Regions from separate parts of the Homo sapiens genome. Here all the other regions are linked to region 2. The links come from fine-mapping of genetic effects on gene expression. A gene starts in region 2. Each other region holds a variant in brackets. All regions are shown on one strand. Distances are between the middles of the regions.

Region 1 (6,073 bases), 56 kb before region 2:
AACAGAGACCTCAGAAATAACAACACACATCTACAACCATCAGATCTTTGACAAACCTGACAAAAACAAGCAATGGTGAAAGGATCCCCTATTTAATAAATGGTGCTGGGAAAACTGGCTGTCCATATGCAGAAGACAGAAACTGCACCCCTTCCTTACACAAATATTAACTCAAGATGGATTAAAAACTTAAATGTAAAACCCAAAACCATAAAAACCCTAGAAGAAAACCTAGGCATTACCATTCAGGACACAGGCATAGGCAAGGACTTCATGACTAAATCACCAAAAGCAATGGCAACAAAAGCCAAAATTGACAAATGGGATCTAATTAAACTAAAGAGCTTCTGCACAGCAAAAGAAACTATCATTGGAGTGAACAGGCAACCTACAGATTGGGAGAAAATTTTTGCAATCTACCCATCTGACAAAGGTCTAATAACCAGAATCTACGAAGAACTTAAACAAATTTACAAGAAAAAAAAATCCCATCAAAAAGTGGACGAAGGATATGAACAGACACTTCTCAAAAGACAACATTTATGCTGCCAATAAACATATGAAAAAAAGCTCGTCATCACTGGTCATTAGAGAAATGCAAATCAAAACCACAATGAGATACCATCTCACGCCAGTTTGAATGGCGATTAAAAAGTCAGGAAACAACAGATGCTGGCAAGGATGTGGAGAAATAGGAGAAATAGCCTTTACACTGTTGGTGGGAGTGTAAATTAGTTCAACCGCTGTGGAAGACAGTGTGGCGATTCCTCAAGGATCTAGAACCAGAAATACCATTTGACCCAGCAATCCCATTACTGGGCATATACCCAAAGGATTATAAATCATTCTGCTATAAAAACATATGCACACATATGTTTACTGCAGCACTATTTACAATAGCAAAGACTTGGAACCAACCCAAATGCCCATCAATGACAGACTGGATAAAGAAAATGTGGCACATAGACACCATGGAATACTAAGCAGCCATAAAAATGAATGAATTCATGTCCTTTACAGGGACATGGATGAAGCTGGAAGTTATCATTCTCAGCAAACTAACACAGGAACAGAAAACCAAACACCACATGTTCTCACTCATAAGTGGGAGTTGAACAATGAGAACACATGGACACAGGGAGGGGAACATCACACACGGGGGCCTGTCAAAGGGTTGGAGGTAAGGGGAGGGATAGCATTAGGAAAAATACCTAATGCATGTGGGGCTTAAAACTTAGATAACGGGTTGATAGGTACAGCTAACCATCATGGCACATGTATACCTATGTAACAAACCTGCACATTCTGCAGGTGTATTGCAGAACTTAAAGCACAATTAAAAAAAAAAAAAAAGGGCCAAAATTTTAAGAATGCATCGTGGGCCAGGCACAGTGGCTCATGCCTGTAATCCCAGCACTTTGGGAGGCCGGGGCAGGCAGATCACTTGAGGCCAGGAGTTTGAAACCATCCTGGCCAACATGGTGAAACCCCATCTCTACTAAAAATACAAAAATTATTCGGGTGTGGTGGCATGCACCTGTAAGCCCCACTACTTGGGAGACTGAGGCATGAGAATCGCTCAAACCCGGGAGGCGGAGGTTGCAGTAAGCCAAGACTGGGCCACGGTGCACTCCAGCCTCAGCGACAGAGCAAGACTCTGAGAAAAAAAAAAAAAAAGAAAGCAAGCCTGGTGACATTCATATATTTTAAAACATACTATGAAATGGAATTGCAAATACAGTGAGAATGACTCTTCTATATATTTTCTTGCTTTGTTTTCCCTTTTCTTTTACACTGCCCTTGTATGCCATATGCAGCAATGGCATAGCCTACAATGCAGACAATTTGTAAATATTCCTCAAATACTACCAGGTTCAGTGATAGACACTTTCTGTTTTTTTTTGTTGTTGTTGTTTTTTGTTTTTTTTTGAGACGGAGTCTCACTCTGTCACCCATGCTGGAGTGCAGTGGCGCGATCTTGGCTCACTGCAATCTCTGCCTCCCAGGTCCAAGCGATTCTCCTGCCTCAGCCTCCCAAGTAGCTGGGACTACAGGCACACGCCACCATGCCCAGCTACTTTTTTTTGTATTTTTAGTAGAGATGGGGTTTCACATGTTGGCCTGGATGGTCTCGATCTCTTAACCTCGTGATCCAATTGTGGCTCAAATATTTCTATTCCGGTTGTTCGTGTCTGCATTGCTGCCCCACTGTGGCTGACTGCCTACATAGCCTCAATTCTTCAACTTTCCATGTATATTCACTCTTCACCAGATAATCCTGCAATATCCAATATGCTGTCACTCTGATGGGATTCAGTCATGTGATTTGTTTTGGCCAATAAATAGGGTGACAGTAGATGTCATGTAAGCAGAGGTTTTTTTTAATACCATGAAAAGCACTTGAACAGTTGGACTTGCTCTGCTTTGCTCTCTGCCATCACCAGCCCCCAACTACTGCCCTCTGCTGGGCCAGCCTGCTGGTCCCAATCAGGGGAGAACTTACACATCGGCCAGAGGCAGGGCATCCCTGTCATCTCAGCTGAGGCCACTTTAGATGAGCCAACAACCATCCAAGACCAAGTGAATGGGCCCACCCAAGATCATCAGAAACACCCAATTCACCTGCAGGTGACCAGTACATGAGTGAGCCCAGCAGGGATCAGCTGAATCCCATGGACTCCTGAGCCCCCAAAATGTTTAGTTGTATGCCGCCAAAATTTTGTGTCTTCACACATCATAAAACCAACAGAAAACTGATACACCCATAATATCCAGACTCCCTTTGGAAAGACATTTTTACTAAGAGAGAACCAAATCTCTATGAATAATTACCTTTAAGCAAATACGATAAATATGCCATAATTTAATGGAGAATTAACACTTTCTCAAAGCCGATCATGATCAATCTTTAATCTTCCATATAAAGTGAAAAATGATTTGCATTAAACATCACAACGCCACAAAATCAACCCTTCTTATTTCAGGTGCTTTATTTTAGGCCCTAGTTGTATTTAATGCATTTTTCCTTCAAGAGTTTTTGTTACCACCTTAAATTCTTTTGGGGCAAAGAAGAGTATAAATAAGCAGGCAAGTATATCCTCTCTAATGAGTATTACATTCCTCAAAATGTAAACAACAAATATCCTTTTCTCTTTTTTGATTCTCATTCTCAGTATTTAAAAAATATCCTTTTTTATTGGAGATCTTTCTTAGACCAAAATGATAACTTCAAATAGTAAATATTCTATATGTATGTGTATATGTTTATGTATTATACAACTATGTTTATATATTTTAACATATACATATTTCACACTTTGATAATATACTGTGAAATTAGTTTTTAATGGCAGAATATATTTTAATAGTTTAAACAACTATGAAATCTTATAAGAAAATGAAATAATCTAAATGTATTAAATTTAATTTCTTAACAGATTAAGTCTATAATCATATAAGCAAATTGTAAAATTCAAGACGGTCTTGAGACAGTCTTCATAAATGATCATTGTCTACTGAGCTTAA[T/C]ATGTAGTGACTGACATAACTGAATAGTTTTCATTTTGGCTGAATCTGAACTAAATGAGACTGTGAATGGCTCTATGTTTCAGAAATTACACATTGTGAAATATACACTACTTTGAGAGTGGATTTGCTGTGAAGACAGTCTCACCTGATCATGCATTAGTGCTGCAATGTGTGTTGTTTTCCCTCCAGGTGCTGCACACAAGTCTAGAATCTTCTCTCCAGGTTGAGGATTTAGTACATGACTTACTAAGGCAGATGGCAAATTCTATAAGGAAAAAAATGTAATCGATTATCAATAATCCTAAAGCATTTTTAATTTGAGAACCAGAGAATATAAAGAACCCTTTGGGGGTAATCCACTACAGCATCCTCACGTCTGCTAAGAGGACAATTTTTATAAATATACTCAGGTTAGGAAATTCACAATTTCCTAGAATATCCTACGATCTCCCAGGACTTACACACAAACCACCTGCGCAAAAATATACATGACACAATTTTCAAGTCAACTGAACTCAATTGCCTTATCAGTATTTTCTGGGTACCAGCAAAAAATAAATAAATAAATAACCCATATTATTTCCTTTTCTGAATCCCAATGGTTCTCAATATTCTGGAAGCCAGAGACCTCTAAAATTGCAGGACCACTCTGGACTTTTTTCCCAAAAAATGTACAAAATTTTGGTCTCAGCGGTCATTACTCAGCATTTTAGTACAAAAGCATGCCATTTTCATATAGACATATCATCTGAGAGTACTTCAATCTCAGCATTGTTCACTTTAATAATTTAAACTCCACTTGGGAACACATAAATATTAAATAATTGGTTTCTTCCAGTTAACCAAGAATATAACTTTGCCATTTTGGCCGCCTCATCATCTAACTCTCATTTAAGATGCCTTGTTTTATGCTGCTAAATCACCCAAAAGGCATGTTTGGGTCCCTGCTTCCACCACATTTCAACAGGAAATGAACTAAAATGCAAAAACAAACAAACAAACAACGACAACAACAAAAAACCTCAAACCCTGGCTGTTTCTGACTGGGACCTAAATATATATTATGAGGTTATACAACCAAAACATACCTCATCTATAGCAGTAAGTCATATTAAATCATTAATTTGTTATTAGTATCAATTATATAAGGACTACTTACTATAGAATGATAGCCTTGAATAAAACAGATAGAACAGTATCATAAAATAACTCATTTCTAAAATTATTTGGCAAGAAAAACAGAGTCTTATAAGCATGGAGTTACTTGTTTGGTTATTTTGGAGACAGAGTCTCATTATTTTGCTTAAGCTGGGTTCAAATTTGGGATCCTCACAATTGTGCCTCTTAAAGCTTAAAGGTTTCAATTCATTCCTACCAAAAGACTGAACAATACATCCATTAGTACACCCTCAAGAACTGTGAGATGGCCAGGAGTGCTGGTTCATGCCTGTAATTCCAGCACTTTGGGAGGCCAAAGCGGGAGGATTGCCTGAGGTCGGGAGTTTGAGACCAGCCTGACCAACATGGAGAAACCCCATCTCTACTAAAAATACATTAGCTGGGCATGGTGGCACATGCCTGTAATCCCAGCTACTCAGGAGGCTGAGGCAGGAGAATCACTTGAACCCAGGAGGTGGAGTTTGCAGTGAGCAGAGATAGCGTCAATGCACTCCAGCCTGGGCAATAAGAGCGAAACTCCATCTAAAAATAAATAAATAAATAAATACATACAAACATACAAAAAAACTGTGAGATGGCTACAACATTCTCAAGGGAATCTAAGATCACCACTTTGAAACAAACTCAGTGGTGAGAAAGCAGTTTCAAACAAGCAAATTTCTTCCTCTGAATATATGAAGCATTAAAATCAATGCAAACAATTTAGGCACCCAAAGAGCTAAGTGTCAGGCCTCTGAGCCCAAGCTAAGCCATAATATCCCCTGTGACCCGAATGTATACATCCAGATGGCCTGAAGCAACTGAAGATCCACAAAAGAAGTGAAATTAGCTTTAACTGATGACATTCCACCATTGTGATTTGTTTCTGCCCCACTCTCATCAATGTACCTTGTAATCTCCCCCACCCTTAAGAAGGTTCTTTGTAATTCTCCCCATCCTTGAGAATGTACTTTGTGAGATCCACCCCTGCCCGCAAAACATTGCTCCTAACTCCACCGCCTATCCCAAAACATGTAAGAACTAATGATAATCCCATCACCCTTTGCTGACTCTCTTTTCAGACTCAGCCCGCCTGCACCCAGGTGAAATAAACAGCCTTGCTGCTCACACAAAGCCTGTTTGGTGGTCTCTTCACATGGACACGTGAGACACTAAACACTAAAAATAGCTTAACCTACTATAGTTTATCCAGCAAGCTCTACTTATTTATTTTTATTTTTGAGACAGGATCTGGCTCTGTTACCCAGGCTGTCCGGGTCTCAGACTGTCACCTAGGTTGCAGTGCAGTGGCACAACCACGGCTCACTGAAGCCTCAACCACCTGGGCTCAATCAATCCTCCCACCTCAGCCTCCCGAATGGCTGGGACT
Region 2 (6,073 bases):
TCATGGTCCTCAATCTCCTTATCTGTAAAACTGGAAGTGTATTATATCATTCATAGGATTTTAATGGAAAACATGGTAGATTGCAAAAATGTAATTATGTACAAATGACAGAAAATTTCCACAAACCTTCTGAAGTTCATCAAGTAACAGATTTTTCACATGTTGTACTGAGGCTAAATGTGTATTCACTCTGACAGTTGTAAATGATGGAGGATGTGACAGGTGCTTTAACAAAGTTTCAAACTTCCTTTCTGCTTCTTGTTTACCTAAAGCAGTCACAATCTAAAAAGAAGTTCATGTTTAAATTTCCTGAGAATTAAAAACAGTCAGCAGAGCATCCTTATATATTAATTCCATCTAATGAAACATCGCTTAGCAATTGTTCAGCTCCATTCTATTTTGCTGTATTGTTTATATGTTAATAGCAACTAAGGAAATAGTAATACTTCACGGGGTTCTTGGGCTTCAACATGGTAATAAACACCTAAGAAAATGCCTGAAATAAAGGGCTTAGAAAAACATTGCCTAAACTTCAAAGCATTATGAACATTTTCCAAATATTAGTATCTGCTACATTTATTCACATAAATTCAGGAATTCAGTCTATTTATAATGCATTACCATTACAGCATCTCTGTAGAGCTAGCATTATATCCAAGTTAGTTGGACGTTAGCTAATTAGCTAACATCATATCCAAGAGCAAACTGGCTGGTATCCTTTTAAAATACCAATATTTAAAAAATAAGTAATATTGATATAGTCACTGTCATATAAAGATTCCCCTAGGACATCAGCTTTTTAATATGGTGTTATTAAATGTAACAAATATATATTATCCAAAAAAGATGAGTAGCAAAGACACCTGTCAAATATGACGGTATAAAGACTCAACAATATTCCCTTGTAATTAACCGAAGCTTTTCAAGAAACGTATTTCTTTGTCTTCCTATTTGACTAAACCCTGCTTTACAGAATCTTCACAAACCACTTGTTAGCCTACTCATGCACCAGCCTTAAAAGTATTCATACTTTCTCAAGGTTTAGTCTTATCAAAACTGAACATTCAGCCTGGGCAACATGGTGAAACCCCATCACTACAAACAATACAAATATTATTAGCCAGAGTGGTGGCCCCTGTCTGAGGTCCCAGCTACTCGGGAGGCTGAGGTGAGAGGATCACTTGAGTCCCAGAGGTCGAAGCAGCAGTGAGCTGTGATCATGTCACTGCACTCCAACATGGGCAACAGAGGGAGACCCTGTCTCAAAAAAAAAAAAAAAAGGCATAAAACTTAATATTCCTTTCCCTTCAGTACTTTTCACAAAGGCATAGCTTTTCATTTTGTAAAACCATACCACTGATGAGACTCGAGGCAGAGGCAGTGTCAAAGAAAGACGTTTGGATCTTCTTTATAAAACGACGTTCTCCATTTTAAAATCTGCTGAAAAAATTGTGGTATGCCCCTACTTCTCCTAATATGTGCCTTATATTTTAAGTCCCTTGAAATCAACAGAATATATTTTCTCTTTCCATACAGTCTAGTACCTCAAGCTAATCTTTGGAAATGAAACGTAGAAATCAAATCTAAAAGGCATGGCTTCAATAACATATTCAAAAATGAGTAACATTTAAGTGGTGTTACTCTAACTAAGAAAACTAAAGATTTCAAAAAAAACAAAGTTGCTTAGAGGCAACATGGTAAAGTGGTAGAGAGGACAGGCTTTGCAATAAAAGACAATCAACATTTACTGAGGACTTCTGTGGCAGGCACTGCCAATTGCAAACAAAATTAACATTTTTTGAAGACTTACATGCCAAAACAATGCAAGTTGTTTTCATTTACGTTTAATATCCTAAAACAACCTGGTAAAATATTTTTAACTTGACTAAAAAATTAAAGATTTGAAAAAAAACAAAGTTGCTTAGAGGCAGCATGGTAAAATGGAATAGACAACAGGCTTTGCAATCAAAGATAATCAACATTTACTGAGGACTTTAGCAAATAAAATTAACATTTTTTGAGGACTTACATGCCAAAACAATGCTAGTTGTATTCACTTACGTTTAATATCCTAAAACAACCTGGCAAGATATTTTTAACCATTCTCAATTTTTCACAGAAGAGAAAAATCTAGGTTAAGCCACGTAATTTACAAAGCACTAGAATGCAAATCATGTGCCTGAGATTCAAAAGCTGTACCTTTGTTCATTACACCTGAACTCTTTCCCTCCAGATTTCAATAGTTACTTGATAGCTGTGTCAACTTGGATCAGTTACACAATTCCTTGAGCAGTTTTCTGCTCAAGTCTATTAAAAGAGGAAAAACCTCTAAGAAAAAAAAGATTGTGAAGATTAAAGATGCAAATCTCCTAGCACAACTGCTGGCATTTAAGAGGCACTCAACAAATTACAGAAACCTTTTCACCTGAGTGCCAGAGCCAGCGCTCTTTTAAAATTCGATTCGAGTTCTTGAAGACAGGGACCTTTTCTTGTTCATCCTTGTAACCCTTTGTGCCATGCCTGACAGGCACATGCCTTTTTTCCCTTCTTTTCCACTCCTAAATGTTAAAACATATACCTTATTCACTTCGTATCTCAGTAAGCTTTAATACCTGTAGAAACATATTGGTATTTTTACACTTGATAGACAAGTAGTAAGGAACGACGGCTGTCAAGATTTCCCTTTATACTTATTTCTATTTCTCTCGAGTGTGCGAATATTTGAGTTTTTGCAAAATATCAACTAACATCTTTACTTGACCTACCTCCTTATTCATAAAGCCTTCCTTAAGATAGTTTTCAACCTCAGGTCTCAAAGATATCTTAGGGAAAATAGACATTTTTCCTGTTGTTTAGTTCTCCACCAAGAGAAATGCTGGAAAACGGTGTTTTGTTTTTTTTTTTCTTTCCGAATTAATAGTGACGAGTGTCTTGACACCAGATGCTGAGGAAAATCTTGCCGATCACGCTGAGTTAATTTCGGAAATGCAGAGGTACACGCTTTCTCAAGCCTAGCCGATTAGAAGGGGCTGCCGGGCTTCCACCACACCTCATCGAGGCAATGTTTTCTGGTAGAGATGCTCATGGAAATCACTGAGCCAATGCCACTCACGTTGCAAAGAACCAAAAAAAGAAAAAAATGCTTAGTAACTGAATCCGTGGTGAAACGGACGCAGATCAGTAAGCCAGGCTGACAGCAGCTCGGTCCCTTTATCTTTTCTATCAATTTCCAAACACGCGCCCCCTATTTCTCGGCGGAAAGTCGCTTCCGGCTTACGTCACGTCCGGCGCCTGCGGCCCACCCCTCCCTTTCCGGTCCCCCAATCCACAGCCGCAAGTTTCCCCAACACTGCGTTACGCTACGCCACGCCCCCGGAGGTTCCTAACCCTGCGTGAGGCTCTTTCACCTGCCTCAGGTTAAGTAGGCAGACCCCGCGGGCGGGATGGTCAAAGATATTTAGTTCCCGGTACCGGAGGGCTAGGTGCCAGGGGCAATGGGGAAACAGCCAAATGGCGTGGGTTGAGTGGAAGATGTTGCTGGACTGAAAAAAGGCACAGCCCAGTTGCTGTCCTGCCAGATGTCCTCCAGTTAGAGGATGAGGCCAGAATTTGGGCGCATCAGCCACCGTTTGATTTCATGACATGATTTTACCTCTCTCAGGCATACAGATCTGACTTCAGTTGTGAAGTTCATAGGGTTCATATTTTTGAAAGTTGGGCTAATGGTCTGTTAATATCCAATGCTCAGGTAAAACTTAAAACCCACAGACAGTGTTTACAGTTAGTTATAAGGCTAACTGCTACTTGTATCATAGTTGACATATTCTTTAGAGTTTGGAAGACCCTCGCCATTATTTTTTTTTCTTTTTTTTCATCATAAGCAGACAAGGATATAGATTCAAAGAACGAGGATATCTAACCAAACTCACTGAGTCATTTTATAACTGTACAGGAAAGTCAAAATAATTCTATCACCTTGACATATGTTTTTTGCAGCACACCATGGTAATTTACACATAAGTATAGGAAAGGGTTTTTTATTGTTTTTTTCTCTTTAATTTTCACACCGAATTATACACACAGACACACACACATAGAACAGGTACTTTCCATGACACACCAACTCTTTACCAGAAAGAGTAGAAAATAATGAATGACCATTATACCACACAACAACCTGCAAGTTGTTTATCATTTTCTCTGCTCTTTTTTTTTTTTTTTTTTTGAGTCTCTGTCGCCCAGACTGGAGTGGAATGGTGGGATCTCGACTCACTGCAACCTCCACCTCCTGGTTCAAGAGATTCTCCTGCCTTGGCCTCCCGAGTAGCTAAAATTACAGGCATGTGCCACCAGGCCCAGCTAATCTTTGTAATTTTAATAGAGACGGGGTTTCACCATGCTGGCCAGGCTGGTCTCAAACTCCTGACTTCAACTGATCTGACTCTCTAGCCTCCCAAAGTGCTGGGATTACAGGCGTGAGCCACCACGCCCAGCCCATTTTCTCTGTTTTAAAGAGTAAATCAAGGTTCCTAGGGTTGAAACAACTCTCCATGTTCTCACAAATAAAAAGCCAGGATAAAGACTAGTAATTTGGCTTCTAGAGCCAATACCTTGTCCTTGACCATAGCATATTTCTTCAATAAATCCATGAGATTCTTTCATGGCTAAAACATCTGAAAGTGATAAATGTCTAAATCAGACATTTCCAAAGGAATTTCTGTAGCCTGAATTTCATGGTGACCATAGCACCACTGATGGCTAGAATCTGTATTTTAGCGATAAAGGAGGAGAAACAAGTTGAACTACATTTTAAACTCCACAAGGATAGAGACTTTATCACACCACTATGTACCCAAGCCTAATCCATAATGGGCACTCAAATACTTACTGAATGACTAAATGAAAAGATGGATGAACATCTCTATAAACTATGGAAAGAAAATGCTGATAAAGCATTTGCCAGAAATTACTTCACTAGTGCCACACACGGACAGAATTGAGGACATTTAGACTTTTTTGTTTGTTTGAGATGGAGTCTCATTCTGTCGCTCAGGCTGGAGTGCAGTGGTGCTATCTCAGCTCACTGCAACCTCTGCCTCCCAGGTTCAAGTGATTCTCCTGCCTCAGCCTCCCCAGTAGCTGGGATCATAGGTGCCCACCACCACGCCCGGCTAATTTTTGTATTTTTAGTAGAGATGGGGTTTCACCATGTTGCTCAGGCTGGTCTCGAACTCCTCAGCTCAAAGTGATCCACCCACTTCAGCCTCCCAAAGTGCTGGGATTACAGGCGTGAGCCACCACACCCAGCCATTTAGACTATTCTTGACTAGATGTTATAGTAATGACAGTTAATGTTGACGAAGATATCTCTTGGGATTCTAAGGCTGGATCCAAGAAAAGCATATTACAAAACAAGAGGTTGGCATAGTAGATATGTGCTATGTAAGCAAAGGAAAACTACTCTATGAATACACCCATATAAGATTTATTTAGGCTACAAGTTCTTCATATGGGCGACATGGCTCCCCAGGGTGTGGGGAACTCAGGGAGGACTGAAACAATTTTTGATACAATCTCACTCTTTTTAGTTTGTGGAACTCCAAAGCTTAACCTTACCAAAACAATCACTCCTGAGCATTTAATTTCATGGTAAGGGTATGGGAGAATTAGCAGGAAAAAATGTCTAGAAAGGCTCTTTAGGGGGATGATAATTTTAAAAGGTTGATAAAACACTGATTTAGGTGATCACTGCCCTCGAGTCTCACTCTGTCGCCCAGGCTGGAGTGCAATGGCATGATCTCGGCTCACTGCAACCTCCGCTTCCTGGGTTCAAGCGATTCTCCTGCCTCAGCCTCCTGAGTAGCTGGTATTACAGGTGCCTGCCACCATGCCCAGCTAGACAGTTAACTAATTTCTATCTAGTCCTCCCTTTTTCTGTTCTTCCAGGTTGCCTTTTTATTTCTTCTATGACAGACATGCCTCTTTTACTTGCCAAAATGTTATTTCAGACTGATCTTGGAAGAAAGGTCTTAATTCTGCCTCTGGCTATCTCCATTCAAGGGAACTTCTTTCC
Region 3 (6,073 bases), 83 kb before region 2:
TTTCCATTCCAGTTCATTCCGTAATCAATTACATTTTCCATTCCATTCTGCATTCTCGATTCCATTCCATTCTCCATTCCATTCCCTTCCATTCTCCATTCTATTCCCTTCCACTCTCCATTTCATTCCCTTCCATTCCATACCATTCTCCATTCCATTCCATACCATTCTCCACTCCATTCCATTCTCCATTTCATTCCACTCTCCATTCCAGTTCAGTCTCCATTCTATTCCATTCCATTCTCCATTCCATTCTATTCTACTCCATTTTCCATTACATTACATTCTCCATTCTCCGTGGCATTCCATTCCAATCCATTCTCCATTCCATTCAGCACTCTATTCCATTCTCCATTCCATTCTCCATTTGTTACATTTTCCATTCCATTCTCCATTCCTTCCCATTTTCCACTACATTCCATTCCATTCTTCCTTCCATTCCATTCCACTCCATGCCATTCCATTCTCTATTATATTCACAACAATCTCCATTCCACGCTCCATTTCATTCCATTCCATCCTCCCTTTCATTCCATTCTCCACTCCATTCCTTTCTCCACTCCATTCCATTCTCCATTCCATTCCATTGTCCATTCCATTCTATTCTCCATTCCAGTTCATTCTGCATTCCATTCCATTCTCCATTCCATTCCGTTCTCCATTCTGCATTCCATTCCATTCTCCCTCCCATTCCCTTCCATTCTCCATTCCATTCTCTTCCATTCCATACCATTCCCCATTCCATTACAATCCCCATTCCATTCTCTATTCCATTCCATTCTCCATTCCACTCTATTCCATTCTCCATTCTACTCTATTCCATTCTCCATTCTTTATTCTATTCCATTCCACAATCCATTCCATTCCACATTTCATTCCATTCCACATTCCATTCCATTCTCCATTCCATTCCATTCTCCATTCCATTCTATTCCATTCTCCATTCTTCATTCTATTCCATTCTGTAATCCATTCCATTCCGCAATCCATTCCATTCCACATTCCATTCCGTTCTCCATTCCATTCCATTCTCCATCCCATTCTATTCCATTCTCCATTCTTTTTCATTCTATTCCATTCCACAATCCATTCCATTCCGCAATCCATTCCACTCCACATTCCATTCCATTCTCCATTCCATTCTCCATTCTTCTTCATTCTATTCCATTCCACAATCCATTCCGTTCAGCAATCCATTCCATTCTGCATTCCATTCCATTCTCCATTCCATTCCATTCTCCATTCCATTCCATTCTCCATTCTATTCCACTCCATTCTACATTCCTGTCCAATCCATTCCATTCTCCATTCCATTCCATTCTATTGCATTCTACTCTCCATTCCATTCCATTCTCCAGTCCCTTCCATTCTCCATTCTATTCCATTCCATTTCCCATTCCATTCTATTCTCCATTCCATTGAATGCTCCATTTTCTGTTCCATTCCACACCATTCTCCACTCCATTCTCCATTTCATTCCATTCCATGCTCCATTCCATTCGATGCTCCATTCGATTCTGCATTCCATTCCATTACCCATTCCCTTCAATTCTCCATTCCATACCATTTTTCATTCCATTCCATTCTCCATTCCATTCCACTCTTTCCCATTCTCCATTCCATTCATTCCATTCTCCATTCCTTTCCATTGTCCATTCTATTCTCCATTCCACTCCATTCTCCATTCCAGCCTCCATTATATTTCATTCTATTCCATTCTCCATTCCATTCTATTCACCACTGCATTCCATTCCATTCTACTCTCCATTCCATTCTCCATTCCATTCCATATTCTATTCCTTTCTCCATTCTATTCCATTCTCCATTCCATTCCATTTTCCATACCATCCTCCATTTCATTCCATTCTATTCACCACTGCATTCCATTCCATTCTCCATTACATCCTCCATTACATTTCATTCTATTCCATTCTCCCTTCCAGCCTATTCATCACTGTATTCCATTCCCTTCTATTCTCCATTCCATTCCATATTCTATTCCTTTCTCCATTCTATTCCATTCTCCATTCCATTCCATTTTCTATACCATCCTCCATTCCATTCTATTCACCAATGCATTCCATTCCATTCCATTCTATTCTCCATTCCATTCCATATTCCATTTTCCATTCCATTCCATACCATTCTCCATCATTGCATTTCATGCTCCATTTCATTCCATGCTCCATTCCATTCCATGCTCCATTCCATTCCATTCTCCATACCATCCTCCATTCCATTCCATTCTCCATTCCATTCTATTCACCACTGCATCCCATTCCGTTCTCCATTCCATTCTCTTCCATTCTCCATTCCGTTCCATTCCATTCTCCATAGCATTCCATTCTCCATTCCATTCTCTATTCCATTCCATTCTCTATTCCATTCTCCATTCCATTCCATTCCTCATTGCATTCCATTCCGCATTCCATTCCATTCTCCTTCCATTCTATTCTCCATTGCATTCCATCCTCCATTCCATTCTGCATTTCATTCCATTCCTTTCTCCATTTCATTCCATTCTCCATTCCATTGCATTCTACATTCTTCATTCCATTCTCCATTCCATTCCTTTACATTCCATTCTCTACTCCATTCCATTTTCCATTCTATTCCATTCTCCATACCATCCTCCATTCCATTCTATTCACCACTGCATTCCATTCCATTTTCCATTCCATTCTCCATTCCATTCCATATTCTATTCCTTTCTCCATTCCATTCCCCATTCCATTCCATTCTCCATTCCTTTCTATTCACCACTGCATGCCATTCTATTCTCCATTGCATTCTATTCTCCATTCTCCATTTTCCGTTCCATTCCATTCCATTCTCTATTTCATTGCACTCCATGCTCCATTCCATTCCATTCTGCATTACATTACATTTCTCATGCCATTCCATTCTCCATTCCATTATCCATTCTATTCCATTCTCCATTCCACAAAATTCACCATTCCATTCCCGTCCATTATCCATTTCATTCTCTACCATTCTCTGTTCCACTCCATACCATTCTCCATTCCATTCCTTTTTCCATTCCAGTTCATTCTCCATTCCATTCCGCATTCCATTCTATTATCCATTCTATTTCATTCTGCATTCTCGATTCCATTCCATTCCCTTCCCTTCCTTTCTCCATTCCATT[C/CTCCAT]TCCATTCCATTCCATTCTCCATTTCATTCCATTGTCCATTCCAGCTCCATCTCCATTCCATTCCATTCTCCATTGCATTCCATTCTATTCTCCATTCCATTCCAAACCATTCTCTATTCCATTCCAATCCATTCTCCATTCCATTCCAATCCATTCTCCTTTCCATTCCATTCCCCTTTCCATTGCATTCCATTCCACATTCAAATCCCCATTGCATTCCATTCTCCATTCCATTCCATTCTCTTTTCCATTCTATTCTCCATTCACTTCCATTCCATTCTGCATTCCATTCCCTTCCATTCTCCACTCCACTGTCCATTCCATTTCATTCTCCATTGCATTCCATATTCCAATACATTTCACATTCCATTGCAGTCTCCCTAACATTCTTCATTCCATTCCACATTCCATTCCGTTCTCCATTCCATTCCATTCTCTATTCCATTCTACATTCAATTCCTTTCTATTCTCCACTCTCCATTCTGTTCCATTCCAATCCATTCTACTCTCCATTCCATTCCATTCTCCATTTGGTTCTCCATTCCATTCCAATCCATTCTCCATTCTATTCCATTCTCCATTCCATTCCCTTCCCCATTCCTTTCCATTATATTCTCCCTTCCATTACATTCTCTATTCAATTCCATTCCAATCAATTCTCCATTTCATTCCATTCTCCATTCCATTCAATTCCACATTCCATTCCATTCTCCATCCGTTACATTCTCCATTCCATTCCCCATTCCACTGCATTCTCCATTCCATTCTCTATTCCATTCCATTCCATTCTCCATTCCATTCCATTCTGCATTCCATTCTCCATTTCATTCCACTCTCCGTTCCATTCCATTCTCCTCCATTTCCAAGTCCATTCCATTCTCCATACCATCCTCCATTCCATTCCATTCTCCACTCCATTGTATTCACCATTGCATTTCATTCCATTTTCCATTCCATTGCATTCTCCATTCCATTCTCTTCCATTTTCCATTCCATTCTCCCTTCCATTCCATTGCCCATTCCATTCTCAATTCCATTCCATTCTCCTTACCAACCTCCATTCCATTCCTTTCCATCCTCCATTCCATTTCATTCCACTATCCATTCCATTCCATCCTCCATTCCATTCCATTCTTTTCCATTTTCAAGTCCTTTCCATTCTCCCTTCCATTCTATTGTCCATTCCATTCTCCACACCATTCCATTCTCCTTACCAACCTCCATTCCATTACATTCCATTCTCCATTCCATTATATTCACTACTGCATTCAATTCCATATTCTATTCCTTTCTCCATTCCACTCTCCATTCTATTCCATTCTCCACACCATCCTCCATTCCATTACATCCCATTCTCCATTTCATTCTATTCACCACTGCATTTCATTCCATTCTCCATTCCATTCCATTCTCTATTCCATTCTCCATACCATTCCATTCTCCATTCCATCCCATTCCGCATTCCATTCCATTCTCCATTCCATTCCATTCTCCCTTCTATTTCCTTCCATTCTCCATTCCATTCCTTTCCTTTCTCTATTGCACTCCATACTACTCCCCATTCCATTACATTCCCCATTCCATTCTCAATTCCATTCCATTCTCCATTGCATTCCACTATTCATTCCATTCTATTCCATTCTCCATTCCATTCTATTTGCATTCCATTCCATTCTCCATTCCATTCCACTGCCCATTCTATTCTATTCCATTCTCCATTCTTCATTCCATTCCATTTCGCATTCCATTCCATTCTCCATTCCATTCCACTCCATTCTCCATTCTATTTCATTCCATTCTCCATTCATGTCCATCCCATTCCATTGCATTCTATTCTCCATTCCATTCCATTCAATTCTCGATTCCATTCCATTCTCCATTTTCCCTTCCATTCCACACCATTCTCCATTCCATTCTTCATTTCATTCTATTCCATGCTCCATTCCATATTCAATTCCATTATCCATTCTATTTAATCCTCCATTCCATACCATATTCCATTCCATTCCCTTCCATTCTCCATTCCATTCTCCATTCCATTCCATTCTCCATTCCATTCCATTCTCCAATCCATTTCGTTCCACTTTCCATTCCATTCCATCCTCCTTTCCATTCCATTCTCCATTCCATCCTCCATTCCATTCCGCTCTTTTCCATTCTCCATTCCAATCCAGTGTCCATTCCATTCTCCATTCCATTCCACTGTCCATTCCATTCCATTCTCCATTCCATTCCATTCTCCATACCATCATCCATTCCATTCCATTCTATTCTCCATTCCATTTCATGCTCCATTCCATTCCATTCTCTATTCCATTCCATTCTCCACTCCATTTCATTCCATTCTCCATTCCATTCTCCATTCCATTCCATGCTCCCTTCCATTCCATTCTCCATACCATCCTCCATTCCACTCTATTCACCACTGCATTCCATCCCATTCTCTATTCCATTCTCTTCCATTCTCCACTGCATTCCATAGCATTCTCCATTCCATTCCATTCTCCATTCCATTCCATTCTACATTCAATTACATTCTACATTCCATGTTCTCTTTTCTCCATTCCATTCCCATTCCATTTTCCATTCCATTCTATTCACCACTGCATTCAATTCCCCATTCCATTCCATTCTCTACTTTCCATTCCACTCTCCACTCAATTCTCCATTTCATTGCATTCCATGCTCCATTCCATTCCATTCTCCATTCCATTCCACTTTTCATTCCATTCTCCATTCCACTATCTATTCTATTCCATTCTTCACTGCATTCCATTCTCCATTCCATTCCCTTCCATTCTCTTCCATTCTCCATTCTGTTCCATACCATTCTTCATTCCATTCCATTCTCCATTCTCCTTTCCATTCCCTTCCTTTCTCCATTCCATTCCCTTCTTTTCTCCATTCCATTCCCTTCTTTTCTC
Region 4 (6,073 bases), 840 kb before region 2:
AGGAAGCACTGATTTGACTTATGCTGTTTTGCTGTTTACTGATGTCCATGCTGTAAATATTCCCACCATGGTTGATTTCAAGCTACTGACTTGATGCCCCTGGGGGCAGAGTTGGGAAGAGATGCCAACAGTAGGCTTTTTTTTTTTTTTTTTTTTTTGAGATGGAGTCTCTCTCTGTCACCCAGCCTTGAGTGCAATGGTGTGATCTTGGCTCACTGCAACCTCTGCCTCGTGGGTTCAAGCAATTCTCCTGCCTCAGCCTCCCGAGTAGCTGGGATTACAGGCACCCGCCACCACACCCGGCTAATTTTTTCTATTTTTAGTAGAGATGGGGTTTCACCATGTTGGCCAGGCTGGTCTTGAACTCCTGACCTCGTGATCTGCCCACCTTAGCCTCCCAAAGTGCTGACATTACAGGCATGAGCCACCACACCTGGCCAACAATAGGCTCTTGCTAGCTGCTGCTATTGGTCCCAGGGCAATATGGAGCCTTTCTAGGCTCTGGGAAGGCGCTCAAACAGTGGGTCAGGTAGTATCATGAAAAGCCTAGAACATCTGCAAAAAATGATAATGAGAGACGTCTTGGTGGACAGAGAAGCCTTAGAATCATAGACCATTAAAGCAAGAACAAACTAGGAAATGATGCATTTTGACATCATCATTTTATAGATGAAGCACCAGGCTCAGGGAGGTAAAATGTCCAGAAGGTGACTGTTTAGCAGGTAGATGTAGATCCAGGACTTTGCTCAACGGCTTGTACTTTTCCACATCCCCTTAGATTTCTTGCTGCGCTGTTAGATCAAGTAAGTGCAAATTAGGTTATTCCTGTTGCCATTTGCGGGTCTCACATTTGGCTGGAAGGGATCCAACTGTGGTTCTGACATAGACATCACGCTAATGGTATAATCCTGATACTCCTCTATTTCATTTCCCTCGTTGAAATGCTAAGAAAGATAATTATTATCATGTGATTATCACAGTAGTGGTTTTTCACAAGCACTCTTGAAAACTTTGATTCCAATATAAATGTATGTCTTATGGTAAATATTGATTCTTCAGTGTATTTTTTCACAAAACTGAATTAAGTGGGAGAAAAATACAAGCACCTTTCTCCTTTTTAAATTTGTTCTCCATCTTTCTCAGTGTTTGTATCTAGAAGGCTGAGCTAACTTTTATGCTTTGGAACATAGGGCTAGATTTTATATATATAAATATATACATATATATATATACACACACACACACACACATTATATATATATATATATATTTTTTTTTTTTTTTGAGACAGGGTCTCACTCTGTCATCCAGGCTGGAGTGCAGTGGCATGATCATTGCTCACTGTAGCCTTGACTTCCCGGGGTCAAGTGATTCTCCCACCTCAGCCTCCTAAGTAGCTGGCACCACAGGTGCATGCCACCATGCCTGGCTAACTTTTGTGTTTTTTTGTAGAGATGGGGTTTTGCCATGTTGTCCAGGCTGGTCTCAAACTCCTAGGCTCAAGTGATTTGCTCACCTCGGCCTCCCAAAGTGCTGGGATTACAGGCATGAGCCACCATGCTCAACCTTAGGTTTTGACAGTTGTGCAGCTTTTGGTTTAATCTACAAATATTGCACATGAATAACTGTAGTAGAAACTTAGACCTCAGGGACCCATAGCTTCCCATAAAGCAGATGGGAAGATGTCATTGTGCACCTTTCCCTATGTGAGAAAGTTGAAGCTCTGAAGATTCAGTGGCTTGCAGAAGTCAGGTAGTCAGTAAAGACCAGAGCTAACTCTTCATTATGATCTTTAGACTCTGAGGCTAAGAAGTAGATAAATTTACTACCTGGAGTGTGTTGATCAGGAAAGATATAATGTGGTTCAAAATAACACTATGTTAGAAGAAGGACTTAGATCCCTTTATCTGTATCAATTTTTTTAGACTTTTCACTTCAAGAGGGGGAAAGGAAGGAATTAATATTTATCAAGTGTGTATTAGATGCAGATAATATGCTGGGTGCTTTACATAAATGATCTCATTTAGAAATTCACGGTAGCTTTACCAGACAGCATTATTGTCCCCATTTTACAGATGAGGAAGTAGAGGCTAGAATGGCTAATAGCACTAAGGCATCACAGCTAAAAAATGGTGGAACCAGGATTTGATTGCAAGCCTATCAACCCCAAAGAAGATAACCCTCCACACCACATCCCCTGAGGCTAGAAACCCTGCAGTTCCGTGTTCTCGGTCCTTCCGTCCCTCTTTTTTTTTTTTTTTTTTTTTTTTTTGAGACAGAGTCTCGCTCTGTCGCCCAGGCTGGAGTGCAGTGGCGCCATCTCGGCTCACCGCAACCTCTGCTTCCTGGGTTCAAGTGATTCTCCAGGGATTATAGGCGTGCACCACCCTGCCAGGCTAATTTTTGTATTTTTAGTAGAGACGGGATTTGGTCATGCTCACCAGGCTGATCTCGAACTCCTGACCTCAGGTGATCCCTCCTGCCTTGCCCTCCCAAAGTGCCGGGATTACAGGCGGGAGCCACCGTGCCTGGCCGGTCCCTCTTTCTGCACTGCTGCAACAGTTCTCTGCTCTTTCATTTCATCTTATTCTGAAACATCTCACACTGTCTGTACGACTGATTTTGCCAAGTTAACAATAATAATAATGAATATATATTAAGCAATTCCTGTGTCAGGAACTCTTCTAAGCACTTTATTTAGATGATCTCATTTCATTCTCACGACAATGAGGAGGTCCTGCTATTTCCCCCTTTATTTTACAGATGGGGAAGTGGAAGCACAGAGTAATGTTGAACTTGGCCAAGGTCACACAGTCAGCGAGCAGCGGAGTCTGTTACCTGGGAGCCAAATCCTAGAGCTCTGATTATGTCATGATCAGATTGACATGATACATACATAAGGTGAACGAATTAGTGGGGCTATGCATGGAAGAAGAAAGAGCAGTGTGGTGTCAGCTTCTTACCTAGTAAAGGGTTTTGTTTATTTATCTTAAGGGGGATCTGGGGAGGCTGGCATTCAGAGGCTGAAGAAATAGGAGTGAGAGCAGAAACTAGCTGTGGAGAAGTAGGAGGGTTCACAGTCCAGGACACAGGTAGGGCGGTCAGCAGGAGGAAGGAAGCCTCTTCTACTGAC[T/A]TGGGAGCGAATGGCCCCGGGAAGGTGTAGATATTCATATCTTTAAGGTGGTAGGAGGGAAGTTGGAAGAGTTTCTTGGCCTCTGTTTTGTCCTTGTGGTCAGACCCATACTGGGTTCATATTATGTACTTTTCCAAATGGCCAGTTGCAATGACCTAAATCAGTAGTTTCCCTGAATATTTTGGGTCTGAATGAAGGATCAAAGTGACAAATGAAGTAATTCTCTGTTTTTTTTTCTTTTGTTCAACATTTCATTTCTTTTTCTTTTCTTTTTTTTTTTGAGATGGTGTCTCACTCTGTCGCCCAGGCTACAGTGCAGTGGCACGATCTTGGCTCACTGCAACCTCCGCCTTGTGGGTTCAAGAGATTCTCCTGCCTCAGCCCCCCATAGCTGGGATTACGGGCATGTGCGACCACATAGGCTAATTTTTGTATTTTTAGTAGAGACGCGGTTCCACCATGTTGGCCAGGCTGATCTCGAACTCCTGACCTCAGGTGATCCGCCTGCCTTGGCCTCCTGTTCAACATTTCTAAGCCTAAGACTGACTAACACCCTCCATCAGCCCCCAGCACCTGGCATAGCTTCTTGAATGTACTAGGTGCAGGGTAAATATTTGTTTTTCACTGAATTTGGGGTCTTTGGGGAAAACATAGGTACATTTATTTAACTGAGGCTGGTGAACATATTTCTTAGTTTGGATTCCCCAAGAAGCTGTCCTCAGACAATTGCACTCTGGTTTGAGGGCAAGTTAGTTTATTTGGGAAGTGAGCCCAGGAAACACTGACAGGGTAACGGGGAAGTGAGACAGAAAGGGAAGGTGTGTGGACACCCAGTGACCGCTGTGGGCAATGGAGTGTAGGAGCTCTGGGCGACGGTGTGGAATGGTTGCCTTGGACTCATCACATCCAAGGTACAAGAGATTTAGAGCCGTCAGCGGTTCTCCTTGGCCTCTGATGAAGGCTTCCTCCTACAGGGCATTCGTTTTCTGACCCATCTAATTTGTGCCATGTTTGAGCCTAGAGGGCTCTGATAGCCAGAAAAAGCCCCCAGGGCAAAAGGCGTGGTGCTGGCGTTTGGGAGTGGGGCCTGCATGCACCTAAACAGCGAAGGCCGAGGAGAAATAGTATAAATCTGGAGGCATCTGCTACAGCTACTTGCTGCTTTTCCTCTTATCTGGCTTCTCTGTCTTCCAGAAGTTATTGTCTTTTGTGTTCCAATGTCAGCATTTTATTTGCTGATAGTCAGGAAAATCTAAAAATGTATAAGAAAATGTAGCATATCATACTTATCTCCCTGAACAATCACCTTTAATAACCAAATTTTCTTTGCTAGTAGGCTTGGGAATTTAATGACTTGTTCAATGTTGCGGCATAATTTTAAAAATGCTTAAAAAAAATCCAGGCCAGGCGCGGTGGCTCATGCCTGTAATCCCAGCACTTTGGGAGGCCGGGGCAGGTGGATCACTTGAGATCAGGAGTTCGAGACCAGCCTGGCCAACATGGTGAAACCTCATCTCTACTAAAAATACAAAAATTAGCTGGGTGTGTGGTGGCACATGCCTATAGTCCCAGCTCCTGAGGAGGCTGAGGCACGAGAATCGCTTGAACCTGGGAGGCGGAGGTTGCAACGTGTTGAGATCACACCACTGCACTCCAGCCTGGGCGACAGAGTGACTCTGTCTCAAAAAAAAAAAAAAAAAAAAGAAAGAAAATCCACACCTATGTTACTGGATGTTTAGTCTTTAATCATTTTTAACCTGAGATATTGGGTTGAAACTTATTGCATGTTACTGGATGTTTAGTCTTTAATCATTTTTAACCTGAGATATTGGGTTGAAACTTATTGCTTCTTTACTAAATGTATTTTGATCCTTGATCTTTTTGCCTTTGAGTTAACCACAGCAGAGAGTGTGCTCAACATGGCAGGAAACTTATGTCTTTTGTTTGTCTTTGTATTGTCATTAGCATAGCATCTGGCGTGTGGTCATTGTTTGTCAAGTATTTGTTGAAAAATTAATGTGAAATTAGTAAGATCAAGTTAGGATGGAAGGAGAATCACTGCAATTCTGGATATAAATTTCTGATGTGTAAGTATTAAAAAAAGAAACTCACATATTAGATCCTACAAAAGAGATTGCAGAGAAATTAAAACAGATCGACTGTGTCGATCTGTTCATCTTTGCCGTATTTCTGTTACAAAAACATAATTGGTATGGACAAAAATAGAATGTTTATAAATGTTGGTGTGGTTAATATTGGTAAAAATGCCACAAGCTGCCTTTTGGCCAACGTCTTGAATACGCCTTCAGAGGAAGAAGTATGACATTTTAAGTCAGACATGTTGCAGAGATGATGATAAAGGCAAAATGACATGCTGATTACTTGGGGAGAAGAATAATGCACGATGAATGTATCACCATAGAGCAATAATTTTACATTTCCTTGTATTGTCTGGCAAAGGCAATATCAAACTTACACTGCTTCCTAATGGCAAAAGATAAATAAAGGAAACAAGAATAGATAAGTGTGTATTGAAACAGAACCTTTTCATTTCCAAGTACCCTTTTTGTAAGTATACACATTTCTAAATTGCTCTTCAGTAAAAATAAGCTTTCAGGGGAAAAATGAATATTCAGCATACCTGTAATCATTAATCTATCATTAGATAAATAATTTATCTGGGTTACTAGTTAAGATGCTTCCGCTTAATAAACATTCTTTCATTCATTCAACTAATTATTTGTTGAGAGATTATTTATGCTCCCCAAAAAGAGACTGCAGCACTAAATCAGAAAGATCAAGTACCTCGTCTCATGAAATTTACATTCCAGTAGGGGACTATGGACAGAACATTAGTAAACAAATTGAAGAAAAATATATTTTAAGATGGTTATGGATATTATATGGTAAATAAAAGAATAAAATGAGTTAGGATGATCA
Region 5 (6,073 bases), 32 kb before region 2:
GAAACAGGAAAAAACAGCAACACGAAGATGGGCACTTGAGAGGAAGAAAAAAATCAAGAGGTCCATCTGCTGGAAGGCAATAAAGTGGCACCAGAAATTGCTTAATCATTTAACAAGCATTACTGTTTATCATAGCATTAGGAGAAAAATAGACTTTCTCTGTCTTCAAAGACTAAAATAGAAAAATACACAAGGAATTACAAAAACATTTCTAAAGTGGTAAATTGTTGCATGGTAAATTATGAATAATTTAAACAAGACAGGAAAAGAAGATAAGTCTTTTTTCCTTCCTTTGCTGCCCAACCTTTTTGAGTCTTTTCCAGTTTCTCACATTCATTTCTTAGACCACTAAAATCTGTATTACTTCTAACACTCAGGGTTCCAAAGATCAGGGACCCAATGTGATCAGCCCTAAATAAAAACCCTTAACAATGAGTCTCTAATAAGCTTCCTTGGATGTGCTGTCACAACTCACTGCTGGGGGAATTAGGTGCATCCTGTCTTCAATTCCATGATCGCCAATTCATCAAATCTTACTAATTTTTCAGCTTTATACCCACTCTTTCCTGGTCCCAAACATTCTCATTGCTCATTCTCTGCCTACTTCTTAGAGGCTCTCCCCGCCAGGTTCCAAAACATGCGACCATCTCTACTCACCTTGCATTCTATCCCTTGGCAATCTCATGATTTCAATAATCACTCACAAAAACAATCCACAAATTCTAATGTTTAGCCTTTCTAGTTTTTTTTTTTTTTTTTTTTGAGACCAAGTCTTTCTCTGTCACCCAAGCTGGAGTGCAGTGACGCAATCTTGGCTCACTGCAACCTCTGCCATCTGGGTTAAAGTGATTCTCATGCCTCAGCCTCCTGAGTAACTGGGATTACAGGTGCTCGCCACCACACCTGGCTAACTTGTGTATTTTTAGTAGTGACAGGGTTTCACCATGTTGGCCAGGTGGGTCTCGAACTCCTGACCTCAGGTGATCCACCAGCCTCAGCCTCCCAAAGTACTGGGATTATAGGCATGAGCCACCACGCCCAGCTTAGACTCTTAATTAGTATTTCTAATTACCTACGGACAGCTATATAGAGACGTCTCACAGTTACTTCAAACTCAACAAGTCCTAAACAATAATCAGTTTTCCCTCATCCATTCCTCCACTCCTTGGCAGGATCCCAAATCTTTTCATCCTGTTTCCAATCTTGAATGAGACGTCATTATCTGCCCAGATAACCAAACTAGATGCCTCAGTGTTACGGTCTGGATGTGTCCCCCAATATTCATGTGCTGGCAACTTAATCCCTAGTGCAACAGTGTTGGAATATGAGGCCTATTGGGAGCTGTTCAGGTCATGAGTGCTCTGCCCTCATGAATGAATTAATGCTATAATAAAAAGGGCTTGCAGCAGTGAGTTTGCTTTCTCTTGCCCTTGTGCCCTCTACCATGTACAGATGCAGCAAGAAAGCCCTCACCAGATGCAAATGCCTCGATCTTGGACTTCGTATCCTCCAACACTACAAAAAACAAATTTATGTTCTTTATAAATTATCCAGTCTCAGGTATTCTGCTATAGCAGCAAAAAATAAACTAAGACACTCAGCGTCATCTTAAAGTCCTCCTAAGCCTTCACATTGATTGATTTAGGAATCAAGCTATCTTCTAGTTCTGATAGGTTTTGTGGGCGTATCTCCTGATGTTGGACACATATCTCTTTGTGATTACTGAAATAGCTTCCTGCCTTTTACCACTGGTTTCAGATTTTCTCTGTCTTTGGTGTTCTGCAACTTCACTCTGAAGTATGTAGACATGAATCTACTTTTACTTTTGGCTTCAAGCTCACACTTCTTAAATTTTTCATCAGTGATAGAAATTCATGGTCATTACACTTGTGATTATTGTCTTTCCCCCATTATTCCTATTCTCTATACCTGAGACTCATTAAAAATATAAATGCTGGTCAGGTGCAGTGGCTCACACCTGTAATCCCAGTACTTTTGGAGGCTGAGGTGGGTGGATCACATGAGGTTGGGAGTTCAAGACCAGCCTGACCAACATGAAGAAATCCCCGTCTCTACTAAAAATACAAAATTACCCAGGCATGGTGGCGCATGCCTGTAATCCCAGATACTTGGAAGGCTGAGGCAGGAGAATCACTTGAACCCAGGAGGTGGAGGTTGCAGTGAGCCGAGATGGTGCCATTGCACTCCAGCGTGGGCAATAAGAGCAAAACTCCATCTCAAAAAAAAAAAAAAAAAAAGAAACGTAAAGTGCTTTTTCATGACTCAATTTCACTTTCATATTTTTAATTTCTCTCTGCTGCATTCTAGATAATTTCCTAAGAGTCATCTCCTAATTCAAAAACTTTCTCATCAGTTGGGTCTAATCTGCTGTTTAATTCATTGTATGAGTTTTTAATTTTAATGATAATTTATTTTTAGAAATTTGTTTTCAATTCTACCTTTTTATCCTTAGGGTCTTTTATGTTTTACTCTTTCATTTTTAATCATTTTAAGAAAACTGTTTTGTCTACAGCCATATCACTCTGAACATGCCCGATCTCAGCTGATCTTGGAAGAAAACTGTTTTTATAGTCTATGCCAGAGAGGTCTATTTGTTAAAAGTTCTGAGGGAAATCCAATCCTGCAGCTTATTATATATGCTGATTCTTACTCATAGTGGTTTGATTCCCAGTGTAGCTTTTAACAATGCCAAGTGTTTGGCTTGGACTGAATGAGTGCTGCTCCAGAGTGGTGTCACTTAGTTTTTGCCAAGTACCCAGGAATTGGCTTGGGACCAAACAGTTAATTTCCCAGTTTGCAGGTTCCAATTTAGGTTGCAGCAATTTGCATTCCAGACCTTTATGACGGAGGGAACTTACGGCTGCGCATTCTCAGAAACACATTTTTCTCCAACCTATATCCTAAGGCAAGAAAGACCTACTTTTAATTACTGCCTTGTAATGACTACTGGGTATTTCTCACCCTTACTATTAACACTTAATTGTTTAAACCAAAGACCCTAAATTTAGAAGAAAGACCACCTCCTTTCCCATACCTTCAACCCCCCAATAATAACTCACATGCTTGCTGTTCTCTTTTCAATTATTCTGCATTCCTAACCTCTAATATATCAACTACATTTTTAATCACTCAACTACATCATTTTGTGGCCTACTATGTTCTTTTTTACTTAGCACTCCTCGGTGTATGTAGCAAAAACATCTTCATGTTATCTAATTCACCATACATATTATTGAAGCTAAAAAACTCGGAAATACTTTTCTAACTTTTCTCCAGGTTTGCAATTCAACTTTTGAAAAAATTTCTGAAACTTTTGACTGTCAGTTGATGTAAGAAACACACTTGATAAAAGAACTTATTTCAAGTTTTTATATCATTTGAGATCTTGATATAAGAAACTACACATACATGTCTGTGTGTG[T/C]GGTATCACACATAACATTTCATTAAATATTTTTACTATGTGCGATGCAATATATTATAAAACATCCCTTTTTTTTTAAATATTCATTGAAAACATTAAATTGATTTCACAAGTTACTAATGGGTCATGATCTCCAAGCAGTTTGGAAGACCACTACCACTATTATATTTCTAAAATACACATCTAATTTTTACTAATAAAAAAAATTTTTTTTTTTTTTGAGACGGAGTCTAGCTCTGTCTCCCAGGCTGGAGTGCAGTTGCGCCATCTTGGCTCGCTGCAAGCTCCACCTCCCGGGTTCACGCCATTCTCCTGCCTCAGCCTCCTGAGTAGCTGAGACTACAGGCACCCGCCACCATACCCGGCTAATTTTTTGTGTTTTTAGTAGAGATGGGGTTACACCGTGTTAGCCAGGATAGTCTCGATCTCCTGACTTCGTGATCCGCCCGCCTCGGCCTCCCAAAGTGCTGGGATTACAGGCATGAGCCACTGCGCCCGACAATAAAAATTCTTTAGCTTCTTAAGTCTATGAAAAAAAAATTCCTTGGTACAAAAAAATCTTCATACTTCATATCTGCCTCTCCCAACTTCTTCAGTTTCATCTTTCACCCATCCCCCAACTCTGAAAACAAATAGCCAAACCTGATCACTTTTATCAGCAGCCACCAATGTTTCATGCATTCATGTCTTTCCTCATGCCTTCTCTCTGCCTAGCATAACCTTGCCCACCTTAACAGCCCTTCGGCCTAATTTCTCCTCACCTTCAAGACTCAAATGAAATAATATCTGCTTAGAGAAAATATTTAACAATTTCTTTGTACTCAGTCCTTCCTATTCTATGCTCCAATAGCATTTAATTTATACTTCTACTGTGACTATCATAACAGTCTGACTTGTACCAAAGTCTCCTGACTTTAGACTATAGAACTATGTCTCATTCATCTTTGTAACACCATCACATCTCACATATAGCACAAATTCAAAAACATGTTTTGTGGAAGTGAAATCTGTAGTGTTAGATTTTATGAAAATAACATGGAGGGGAAAGGATGAATTCTGGAACAGAGAACTGTGCAGAAAAAAGTTAACATAGTAGGCCTGATCTGTTATCTTTGAAAAGCCTGCTTACAAGGCTGGCCCTTGACTGACATCTGGGAACTGAGATTTCAGGAGGTTTACTTATTAACTGCTAAGAGTGGCTCACTGTGCCTGAATTATTGAACAAACTATGATTTATAGTAAATACCAGCTTTCCTTCTGAGAATCCAGAATGTGGGTATGTACCAGGCAGTGGGAATCTACATGATGAGCCCTGAATAGGAATCCTGGCAGTGAGTCTCATGTGGTCACAGCTCAGCACTGGGGGACTTCCTGTGGGAGTCCTGTGTGACTCCCCTGGAAGAGGACTCTGGAAGCTTGTGATGGTTTTCCCTTTGCTGATTGTGCTTCATATTCTTTCACTGTAACAAATCATAGCCGTAAGTACAAGTATGTGCTGAATTCCCTAATTCCTCTTAGAGAATCACAGAACCAAGGAATGGTCTTGGGGATCCATAGACACCAGGACTGACAATATAAAAACACAGTATGTCATATGCAAGTATCAATATTTAAGTCAGCATTGTTGAAAGGGAGTTTTTACTAGGAAAACTAAAAGAGCAAACGTAAAAGTTGGTGCAAGGCCATAAAATATGCTAAAAGCTTGATTTTTATTGAAATGTTTCCAAATAGAGTGCATCAACAACATTAAAGAAAGATTACGTTCCAACAGTTTAGTAATATAGGTTGGAGAAAAAAACTATAAATACACCTAGATTGAGAGAAAAGTATTAGAATAGCTAAAAAATGAAGTAGCTAAGGAATTAAAAACAGATTATGGGAATGTCCTGTTAAGGAATCTAAAATCATGTATTTTTATCTATTTGGTATTTTAACTGCACATATTCACAACCCTACACATACTAACAACCCTACACCAAATGGAAGGTGATGGATGAAACTGTGAAACAGCACATGATATTGCTGCATGCCAAATACTTCTTTGCAGCAGGACTGCCACCTTTATTTAATCAGTAGTCCTTGTGCAACAGCATTTCTTAAATATTCTATTGCAATAACCCTATTCACACATATATATATATATATACGAATGACACACACACACACACACACACAGACACACACACACAAAAATTGAAATCTTAAAGTGCTTGTTATGGATGGAATATTTGTGTCCCCAAAATTCACATGCTGAAACCCGAACTCAATGTGATGGTATTTGGAGAAGTCTTCAGGGGTAATTAGTTATGAGGGTAGAATGCTCATAAATGGGATCAGTGCCTTTATACGAGACCAAAGAGCTACCCACTTGCTTTCTGCAATGTGAGAATACAATGAGAAGTCAGCTATCTGCATCGCAGAAGAGGGCACTCACCAGAACCCAAGCATACTGGCACACGTCGTGGATTTCCAGCCTCCAGAACCATGAGAAACAATCTAAGACAGTACTGACATGAGTGACAAGGCAACTACAAAAGATGGAAATCAGCTGCGCACAGTGGCTCATGCCTGTAATTCCAGCACTTTAGGAGTACGAGGTGGGCAGATTACCTGAGGTCAGGAGTTCGAGAC

What was found.
Region 1: its variant is fine-mapped to the expression of NSUN6 in whole blood (INTERVAL, PIP 0.96).
Region 3: its variant is fine-mapped to the expression of NSUN6 in whole blood (INTERVAL, PIP above 0.99). The same link has a PIP of 0.9 or more in monocytes after interferon gamma.
Region 4: its variant is fine-mapped to the expression of NSUN6 in lymphoblastoid cells (GEUVADIS, PIP 0.91).
Region 5: its variant is fine-mapped to the expression of NSUN6 in whole blood (TOPMed, PIP above 0.99).

Annotation. Positions count from the first base shown.
Region 1 is chr10:18,592,538-18,598,610 of GRCh38, forward strand. NSUN6 (NOP2/Sun RNA methyltransferase 6) reads right to left here. Exons shown (of 11, transcript NM_182543.5): 7 at 3,671-3,790. Among named protein-coding and RNA genes, the nearest start is that of NSUN6, 56 kb to the right of the region's middle. The variant T/C (reference allele first, on the strand shown) is at 3,526.
Region 2 is chr10:18,648,364-18,654,436 of GRCh38, forward strand. It overlaps NSUN6 (NOP2/Sun RNA methyltransferase 6), which reads right to left and starts at 3,224. Exons shown (of 11, transcript NM_182543.5): 1 at 2,766-3,224; 2 at 127-282. The coding sequence starts at 2,840. RefSeq lists an enhancer at 3,364-3,463.
Region 3 is chr10:18,565,251-18,571,323 of GRCh38, forward strand. The region is part of intron 8 of NSUN6 (NOP2/Sun RNA methyltransferase 6); the gene reads right to left. Among named protein-coding and RNA genes, the nearest start is that of CACNB2-AS1, 29 kb to the left of the region's middle. The variant C/CTCCAT (reference allele first, on the strand shown) is at 3,149.
Region 4 is chr10:17,812,432-17,818,504 of GRCh38, forward strand. The region is part of intron 1 of MRC1 (mannose receptor C-type 1); the gene reads left to right. Among named protein-coding and RNA genes, the nearest start is that of MRC1, 6.1 kb to the left of the region's middle. The variant T/A (reference allele first, on the strand shown) is at 3,134.
Region 5 is chr10:18,616,444-18,622,516 of GRCh38, forward strand. The region is part of intron 3 of NSUN6 (NOP2/Sun RNA methyltransferase 6); the gene reads right to left. Among named protein-coding and RNA genes, the nearest start is that of NSUN6, 32 kb to the right of the region's middle. The variant T/C (reference allele first, on the strand shown) is at 3,443.